2 linked regions of the Homo sapiens genome follow. The protein of the gene in region 1 interacts with the protein of each later gene in a pairwise test. Each region holds a gene or a part of one and is shown on either strand. Other genes may lie near its edges.

Evidence for each region.
Region 2: the proteins of RNF14 (region 1) and UBE2W interact in a two-hybrid assay, tested with the Homo sapiens proteins (one large-scale study listed by BioGRID and IntAct).

Annotation. Positions count from the first base shown.
Region 1 is NC_000005.10:141,981,852-141,987,000, reverse strand, and holds part of RNF14 (E3 ubiquitin-protein ligase RNF14), read right to left. Parts: intron 3,622-5,149; coding exon 3,449-3,621; intron 2,199-3,448; coding exon 2,068-2,198; intron 1-2,067. UniProt on the Homo sapiens protein: E3 ubiquitin-protein ligase that plays a key role in the RNF14-RNF25 translation quality control pathway, a pathway that takes place when a ribosome has stalled during translation, and which promotes ubiquitination and degradation of translation factors on stalled ribosomes.
Region 2 is NC_000008.11:73,871,667-73,876,815, forward strand, and holds part of UBE2W (ubiquitin-conjugating enzyme E2 W), read right to left. Parts: intron 1-5,149. UniProt on the Homo sapiens protein: Accepts ubiquitin from the E1 complex and catalyzes its covalent attachment to other proteins.

The sequences.
Region 1 (5,149 bases):
GCCAGTCTATGGAGGATGTGGACTGAGGTTTTCGTGTTCTCTGCTTCACCTTTTGATATCAGAGAACTCCCCCAGAGATCATGCTAATGCCACCATTTTTTGAACATGGGTCCCCTGAAGGGTAATGAAGCTCAACTGCACATGCAGCGTTTTTCTCCTTTCATAAATATTCATGACTCCTCCTATACCTTACTGAATATGTATATCTGGCTATCTTGTAGGGCATAAATCCCTGTCTTCCTCTTCCCATCCTTAGAGTGTCTGTTTCCAGCTTCTGGCTGAAGGCTATGCTTCCCAACCTGTCATAACAGCCACCTTGCCGGCTTCAACTCTTTATGAGAAATAAAGCTCTCCTTTCCAAATTAAAACAAACGAACAAAACAGTCCTTTTAGAATCCAGACAAATTCTCCAGGGCCAAGGATAAACAATAATGAGGGATAGGTATCACAAAACTGATACTCAGCGTATACAATACATGGAATAAGGCAAGACTGGGGAAGTCAGGCAATTTAAACTGAACCCTTTCAAGACACTATTATTACTACTACATGCTCATCACTCCATTCTATCTTCACAGTCCTTGCACCCTCCATTTGTAGAATGTTTTGTAGCTGTCAATTTGTCTTCCTTTCCTTATGTTATCTACAACTTATGCAATTTCCAACACTAGATTTCCAATAGTTCATGGCAGGGCTTGTTTCTTCAATTTCTCTTACAGTTTCACAATACCAATGTGTTTACTTAACAGACACCTCTTAACAAAGATCATCAACTGATGCTGAAAGTGGAGAGCTCTTGGAGAACAGGATATTCACATTGTGCCAAGGAATCACCCCACAGATTACTTCCTAATAACAAAATGGAAAACTTGCCTTTACAATAAAGCAAACTGTAGAAATGAGCACCACACTAATGAGGGACATCATGGACCTCTTGATGTGATCCAATACGGAATACACATCACTCCTCATGAAGTATCAGCATAAAAAATGTTATTCTAAATCGAATCAAGCTTCAGTCTAGACCTAACTTCCAGTTTATAGCAAATAAGAGAAACAAGCTAAAGGACACCATGGACAAATAAAAGTCTAGAAGGTAAGACGTTATATAAGATAACTGACCTGGACTCTTCAAAAAGTGAATGTTTTGCTGGGTGTGGTGGCTCACGCCTGTAATCCCAGCACTTTGGGAGGCCGAGGCGGGCAGCTCACGAGGTCAGGAGATCGAGACCATCCTGGCTAACACGGTGAAACCCCGTCTCTACTAAAAATACAAAAAAATTAGCCGGGCGTGGTGGCAGGCGCCTGTAGTCCCAGCTACTCAGGAGGCTGAGGCAGAATGGCATGAACCCGGGAGGCGGAGCTTGCAGTGAGCCGAGACGGCACCACTGCACTCCAGCCTGGGCGACAGAGCGAGACTCTGACTCAACAAAAAAAAAAGTGAATGTTCACAAAACACACACAAAAAAAAGGTGGGCCAAAGCTTTTCTGTATTAAGAGACTAAAGAGATAGAACCAAATACAATGACTGAACTTGTTCAGATTCTGGTTCAATCAAATAGCTTTAAAAGATATTTTCAGAAATAATTAGGAAGTTTCAAATATGTTTGTTTACTAGATAATAGTATGCCACTATCATTAAGTTTTTTAAAAGTACTGTCATTATGTAGAAGCATTTCCTTATCTTAGGAGAAACGTGGAAATATTTAGAGTTGAAGCATTATCATAACTCCAACTTCATGTAGTTCAGTAAAAATGTTAAGGGAACAAATATGGCAAAGTACTATCAACTGTTAATTTGGGTGGAAAGTATCCTACTATTCATAGTCCTATCCTTTCAAATTTTCTGTGTTTGAAAACTTTCACTATAAAAACTTCCAGATGGTGTATAAGTCTCATTATAAAACTCATTTTTGAGAAAATAATATGAAAATTCCTTTATAGGGGAAAACATGTAAGAGAATTCTCTAAATAAGTCCAAGTACTTAAATAAAACACTGGATTTGTGGTCTGCAAATCAAGTACCAAAAATTGCTGGTGAGCCTGAGGAATTCTGTGTATACATACCGGTTAAAACATGGTGAACCAGGGTCATTGAAATGTTTGTAAGGGTTTGCTCTAGAGAGAGAACCCATGCAAATCCAACAGAAATATTGCATACAGCCAGTACATGTCATCTTGTTACATCCGTCTAATTTCTGGTGGGAAGGATAGAAAGAGAAAAATATCAAGGCTGTAAAAGCAGAAGAGACAGCACATGCCAAAATGATTCAGTACAACATTGTCTTGGTCCTCTCCCTTTTCTTATGCAGGGTTGAGATATCAATGTAACACACTGATGACTATGTAATTCTTTCTATTTTGCATTAGAAGTAAAATACAGAAAATAGCTAGTGTTACTACAATTAGTTACTTGGCACAATCTCTTCTGACAAGCAGTAGATAAAAATCACACAAGTATAACTGGAAAATGTAGTTAGATTAATATTAAAATGTTTGGATGTAACGTGTGGGTTTTTAATTTTTACAGAAATCTAAGTAAATATTTGGTACCAAGTCCTCCACTCTGTCATAGGGCTAAGGTATGTCAAAAGTGATTATATGGCCAGGTGTGGTGGCTCATGCCTGTAATCCCAGCACTTTGGGAAGCCAAGGTGGGCGAGTCATTTGAGGTCAGGAGTTCGAGACCAGCCTGGCCAACATGGTGAAACCCTGTCTCTACTAAAAATACAAAAATTAGCCAGGTGTGGTGGCTGGCGCCTGTAATCCCAGCTACTCGGGAGGCTGAGGCATGAAAATTCCTTGAACCTGGGAGGCGGGGATTGCAGTTAGCTGAGATTGCACTACCGCACTCCAGCCTGGGCAAGAGAGACTCAGTATCAAAAAAAAAAAAAAAAAAGTGATTACATATAGTCCTAGTTTCCTTAACTGGAGCCCACTATGTTCAGTTCAGACATAACAGATTAGAACAATAGAATCAAATGCTAAGATGTATTTTGATTTTAAAACATATTAAGATTTTTGTCAAGAAGCAATATATCTGTCTAATTATTTTGACTCAAATTAATTCCTGAGTGTATCTTAAACAGGTGTGCAGCATTCCAGGATAAATAGTTCTGAGAGATCAGATTTGATTTTTTTTAATCACATAGATGAGGTAAGAGTTGACCATAGCTCTAGTATGCCCTCCTTACAACCCATTCAATTTTGAGGTGGATACAATGTGAGAACAATGGTCACTGTAAGCAAATACTTTGAAAAGGGAAGTCTACAAACATTTAAGGTCGATAACAAGATCTAATAGTGAAATTTCCACCTTCCACGTAAGAAGGTGTAATAATACCAGCATGTGTTTTGTAAGTCATAAAATTGACTAGTAAGGCTTCTTAAGGTAATCATAACATCCTTGCAAGTCTGATGGCCTCCAAGTCTGTCCCAAAACATTTACCTCTATGGGAGTTCCACAACATGGGCAGCTCTTTGAGTTCTTCTCTAGCCACTCCTTACTTTCCATCTCTTCCAGTGCCTTCTGAATCACTCTCTTACCATACCTTTGATCCAAAAGTCTTTTATTAGCCTCATCCGCTTGCAGGTATTCATTTCGTAAGTCCATTAATTTCTCTACAAAGTGAAATGGAAAATTAACTTTTATATAACTTTGTAATGCTGACCAAAAATCATTAAAAATGGCTATAATCTTCGACTATTCAATAATGTTATTCCTAGAACTTTATCATAAGGAAATAATCCAAAGTCATATGCATGGAGATGCATATAACAATGGCAAAAAAATTAAATTTCTAAGGAAATAATTATGTTTGGAAGAGCCATTTAATGACATAATATTCAATTATTAAAAACATAATTAGGTTCGCTACAACCCAATTAAAACACTCATCACAGAATCCAGAAAAAAAGTATATTTATGTTATAACCCAGTAAAAATTATACTTGCACAAATGATAATAAATGGAAAGGAATCCCCCAACTAGAAAAGATGTATCTGCTAAAAGTGGTAGAATAAGATAGGCTATTTTTTTCCTTTGATTTTGATTTCTTAATGTTGGTATGTTTATGCATCTAGAAGTATGCAGTTAAAGACTGACTTATCTAGAAGACACAAAGGTTGAAACAGACATTGATTTTTCCACTAAGTCAGCACCATTCACTGTTTGATAATGAAGAGGCCTACCAAATACAAAGGCACTTTTGGCTTAAGGGCAAAGACTACCTCTTCAATTCTGTGTAAAAAAAAAAAATCAGTGAATAAAACTTAGCACCCAAGTCTCACCCCGTACTATGCTTTGCTACAGGTGCTGAAAAGTTTTCCCTCGATACTCTTCAATCTGGCTTCTACTGCTCTATCATTTAACTGAAATGGAACAGGTAACCAATCCCAAAGGTTTTACTTGCAGACAAAAGGCTTTTGTTCACAGTTGTATTACCTTAATTTTTCAATACAATTAATTAAAGAGTTTTCTCAACAATGTTCTAGTTATTTTATCAGTTTACTTTCCTCACATTATTTGGAAGTCTATCTCCCTTTTAAAGCAAAAGACATCTTCTGGTATAGAATCCTATATCCTATCTCCACTCTTTGCTTTCACCTGTGAATTCTTTCTCTGTGTAGTACATTCCCACAGCTTCATCACCTCTACTTCAATGTAGCAGTGAAGCAATGTAAATCTCATCCCTCTAATAATTCAATGCATTTTTGTGTTCCTAGGCATCTTAAGGACAAAGGTTATATTGCTTTAGTCTTCCCAAAATAATAAAATTGTATTTCATATTTTATATAATATATACATACAAAGAGAGGGAGAGATTCCTAATTTTGCTAAAGCCCTGAATCTATCTTCAATTTCTTCCCTGAATGCTGTGAAACACTTGAAATGTACTGTTGACTTTTAATGAAAAGGTTACAGAAGTCTAAAGTAAAGGCTTATATTATACATTGCTAAGTTCTCCATTCCATCTGGCCTTACCTTCTGCAAGGTGCTGCCTGAGGCAACTGAAATTATCTACCCACTCTTTCCTCTCATGGTACTTTCTTGGAAATAATGACAGTCTGCTAACATTAGCAAGTAATAACTACAATAATAATAGCATTAATAATTACTATTTTTCTTTTTCCTCTTTTTTTTTTTTT
Region 2 (5,149 bases), on another chromosome or scaffold:
ATGAACAAGTATTTTGCAGATACTACTCATAATGAAGCAGACAGCAATAATATAAAGATGGAATAAAATTCATCTAACAAATGCTTAATTTAGGTAAATACTAAGGAGAACTATATTTTCAGAGAGATGCCAGATCATCCCTTTATTTTTTATTTTTATATATACTTTTTGAGACAGGGTCTCACTCTGTCACCCACGCTGGAGTGCAGCGGCACTTTATTTTTTATTTTTATATAAATTTTTTGAGACAGGGTCTCACTCTGTCACCCATGCTGGAGTAGAGTGGCACAATCCTGGCTCACTGTAGCCTCGAACTCCCTGAGCTCAGGTGATCCTCCCACCTCAGCCCCCCAAGTAGCTGGGACCACAGGAATGTGCTACCACACCCAGCTAATTTTTGTCCCACGCTGGGATCATCCCACCTTAAAAACTCTCCTTGATAATGAAGATTATCTTTGAAGGCCAGGCGCGGTGGCCAGCCTTGAAGGATAATCTGATATTACTTTCTGCTTTAGATTTCCTGCTTCATTAAGGCAGGAAAAAATACTTTCCCTCTATCCCTTAAATGTGCACACAGTGACTACCGTAAATATTTGTCCATTACTTAACACTTCAAAAAGCATTCCTAAATAGCTAATTCTGCATTAGTTTAATTCTATTTTAGGTCAGTCTATTAAGCAGTTCTACAATAGTAAGGTTCAGTACCTATAAAGGAATAATTTAAAATTCATATTTATATAATATACCAAAAAAGTGGCTTATTTTCTTGCTGCATGCGTTTGCCATAACTGTAATGTTCTTCATAGTATCTTCATATTCTTTATAAAAAAGGAAGTCAACTAACCTAATTTCATTCTAATAGAGACATAGCAGTAACTGCTGGTAAGTATGTACTTATTTGGAAAGTGACTTACTCAAAATTACACAGTAACTGAGTAGTGAAACTAAGCTCTGAAATCTGTTGATGCTGTGAAGGTGTAAGTAATGAACACAGTTTGGCATCACAGAGAAATCATTGGTGTAATTATGTAACTTTTCAGTCAAGAATTAAGCATTTACTAAACTACTTTATAGTTTTTATAGCTAAAGAAAAGAAGAAATATTCCTGAGTTTATAACACAAGGTTACTTTATGTATCATATTTTAAAAAGAAGTTCTCATGTGTATACTTGTGTACTGAGTAAAATTATAATTGTAAATTTTTACTGTTCAAAGATAATCCTTTTTTTTTTTCCTTTTTTTTTTTTTTGTTTTAGCTGGAGTCTCACTCTGTCGCCCAGGCTGGAGTCCAGTGGCATGATCTCCGCTCACTGCAAGGCGCCTCCGCCTCCTGGGCCCAAGGGATTCTCCTGCCTCAGCCTCTCAAATAACTGGGATTACAGATGCGCTCTACCACGCCTGGCTAATTTTTTTTGTATTTTTAGTAGAGACTAGGTTTCACCATGTTGGCCGGGCTGGTCTCGATCTCCTGACCTCAGGTGATCCACTCACCTCAGCCTCCCAAAGTGCTGGGATTACAGGCTTGAGCCACCATGCTGGCCTATTTTCTAACTTTTAATTATGTTGTAACCCTTCCATACTGACATCAACAAACAGACGTCGTATCTAACTGTCAAGGCAACATGACTACTACAACAGTAATGTCTGTAAGAGTCCATGTTCCATCTCTCTCAATCACTATAGCCAATTACTTGAGCAAAGAGCAGTGGGCTGGGGGCAATGGCTCATCCTGTAATAATCCCAGCACTTTAGGAGGCCAAGGTGGGCCGATGGCTGAGTCCTGGAGTTCAAGGCCAACTTGAGCAACAGGGAAAAAACCCATCTCTACAAAAAATAAAAAAATTAGCCAGGCATGGTGGCGTGTCTATAGTCCCAGCTGCTTGGGAGTCTGAAGTGGGAGGATCACCCGAGCCTGGGAGGACAAGGGTGCAGTGAGCCAAGACCACGTCACTGCACTCTAGCCTGGGTGACAGAGTGAGACCCTGTCTCAGAGAGAAAAAATTTTAAAAGCTGTGAATAATCCAAAATAATGCATTATTTCTAAGTCTGAAAATAAGCACACATTCATACTTTATCTCCTGTTATTAAATCTCAACCTCCTTCCATCCCTACAAATTGACAGTTAACAGTCTAAGACCCAGCTAGGTAAGAGAGGAAGTAAATGCAGAAATTTCACAAGGGTAATTCAACTGACCATTTCTCTCAATTATATCACTGTTTTTAGAGTTGACAAACATCAACTACTATGCACTGACTTTCTAAGATCTTAAGACACAACGTAACAGGAGGTTTTATCTAAAATTAACAATTCTAGAATGTCAAATTAGAAAATTAGACAGCATATATGTTAAAATTGCTAACTTACGAGAAGTCTGAATGAAGCAGTTAAATTCTAAAATCAGAAATTATATCCAGGAGGTCAAGTACTTCATAACATTAAATAATACATAGGAAAGAAAAAAGGTTATAAAATTTAAAAACACGGCCGGGCGCGGTGGCTGACGCCTGTAATCCCAGCACTTTGGGAGGCCGAGGCGGGCGGATCACGAGGTCAGGAGATGGAGACCATCCTGGCTAACACAGTGAAACCCCGTCTCTACTAAAAATACAAAAAATAAGCCGGGCGAGGTGGCAGGCGCCTGTAGTCCCAGCTACGCGGGAGACTGAGGCAGGAGAACGGCATGAAGCCCGGGGATTGGAGCCTGCAGTGAGCCGAGATCGCACCACTGCACTCCAGCCTGGGCGACAGCGAGACTCTGTCTCAAAAAAATAAAATAAAATAAAATTTTAAAAAAGCATTTAACAACAACAACAAAAAATTCAATTTTAGGATTCACCTGAGAAAAGAATACCTCAATACTGCTACACTTTCAAAAATGTTTAGAATCACATAAAAATTCACTTCAATAAAAGAATGCTTCTGCAGTTTGGGGATAAAAGTTTCTACCAAATAATCAGTCCCTAAAACGCTAAAACTAAAAATTTGCTACAAGAAACTTTTCATGTAATATTTAAAGATTTTTAGAATTACCAAAATTAAATGTAGATCTGTTTAACTCCTATCAATTTTAGGTATCACCACAAATATAACATTCTCTTAATGATGGTTTCTTAAGACTGGGCACATAGGCTCACGCCTGTAATGCCAGGATTTGGGGAGGCCAAGGCAGGTGACTGCTTGAGCCCAGGAGTTCCAGACCAGCCTGGGCAACATAGTGAAACCTGTCTCTACAAAATACAAAAACCTGTAGTCACAGCTACTCAGGAGGCTGAGATGGAAAAGATCACTTGAGCCCAGGGAGGTTGAAACTGCAGCAAGCCGAGACAGCGCCACTGCACTCCAGCCTGGGTGACACAGTGAGACCCTGTCTCCAAAAAAGAAAAGGTTTCTTAAAACATAATTTAACTGTAATCTTACTTGGTGATACATTACTTTTTTCTAGGAAGAAACAATAGGAAGGAAAAGAAAAAAAGAAAATGAGTAAAGAATGTCTCAAAGGGATCACATAAGTCTGAAAACCACTATCTTGAATTGTATATGGCAGAACTCTAGCAATATTAGGGAGTAGAGCGTCCCCAGCATTTACAGGTGTGCCAGAATATTGATCTCCCATCCCGGGAGTTTCATGAGGTGCTGCCTGCCAGGTGCTTCTAGCCTCCCAATCTCATCTACTTTAGTGTACTATTCAAAACTTACTTTCTATGTGGGCAGAACCTAAAAGATGGTTGAGACGCACTGACAGAATACATTAAAGCAGTTACTAGCTCAACTTTAAAATACATACTCTCCAATAAGAAATTCAAAGTCTACCCTTACTTGTTTTACTCATTACCAAGTAATGAAATCCCATGTTACATTTGTATAATATGGCATTTTAAAAAAAATACAGTTCCTCTTAGAGCTTAAGTAACTTCAGCAGCAGCAGCAACATCCTGGTGTGGGTTAGATAAATCTACTAAAAGCTTTTTGGGTTAAGGACATGGTCATTCCATGTTACAGCTTATTTTTTCCTAATCGAAATCCCCAAATGATCAATTTCCTAGTCTTCTTCCATGCTTTTTCTCCACTGCACTATCACCTTCTAATATAATAACACACTTGGCCGCGTGCAGTGGCTCACACCTGTAATCCTAGTACTTTGGGAGGCCGAGGCGAGTGGATCGCCTGAGGTCAGGAGTTCAAGACCAGCCTGGCCAACATGGCAAAACCCAGTCTCCACTAAAAACACAAAAAAAATTACCTGGGCGTGGTGGCCAGCGCCTGTAATCCCAGCTACTCAGGAGACTGAGTAGGAGAATTGCTAGAACCCTGGGAGCGGAGGTTGCAGTGAGCCAAGATGGCATCACTGCACTCCAGCCTGAGCAACACAGCGAGACTCCATCTCAACACAAAAAACAAGAACAAAACACAATTAACTTAAATATGCTGTTCTTATCTGTCTCTTCTTATGAGACTATTTATTATTAAATCCATGAGGGCAGAAATCTTGTCTGCTTTTGTTCATTGCTATAACCACAGCAACTAGATAAGTGTCTGACACATAGAGGTCCCCCAAAAGATAACTGGCTCAGTGAATAAACAAAGTTGATAATTTTATTGAAGATTTATGTATAATCTAGTTGTCTTAAAAGAGCCAAATGTTGCCATTAAGATAGTCAGGATATAAATTCTGTATAACAAAGATACAGAATAACCACACAGAAAGTAGGGTTGTCTTTCAAAAAGCTTGACATATATATTAAAATATTCTTAAAGATACTACCAGCAAATCTGCACTAGATATTTTAAAATACAAATAAAAAGGGAAAGACTTTTCAATAAATATAGGAAGCATCCGTTTTCCATTCCTCTAACCAGAAAACACAGAAGAATAGAGAGTGATAAGATTTCGATGGAACAAGGTGAAGGAAAAACTTAAAAGGGTGGTAAGAGTCTGAGATAGTAATACTTAGGGCACAGAAAAATGCACTATTGCACTGTCAATCAAGTATTTGTTTCCAATTCTTAAGACATCATGTAGGCCAGGCACGGTGGCTCACACCTGTAATCCCAGCACTTTGGGAGGCCAAGGCAGGCGGATCACCTGAGTTCGGGAGTTCAAGACCAGCCTGACCAACATGAAGAAACCCCGTCTCTACTGAAATACAA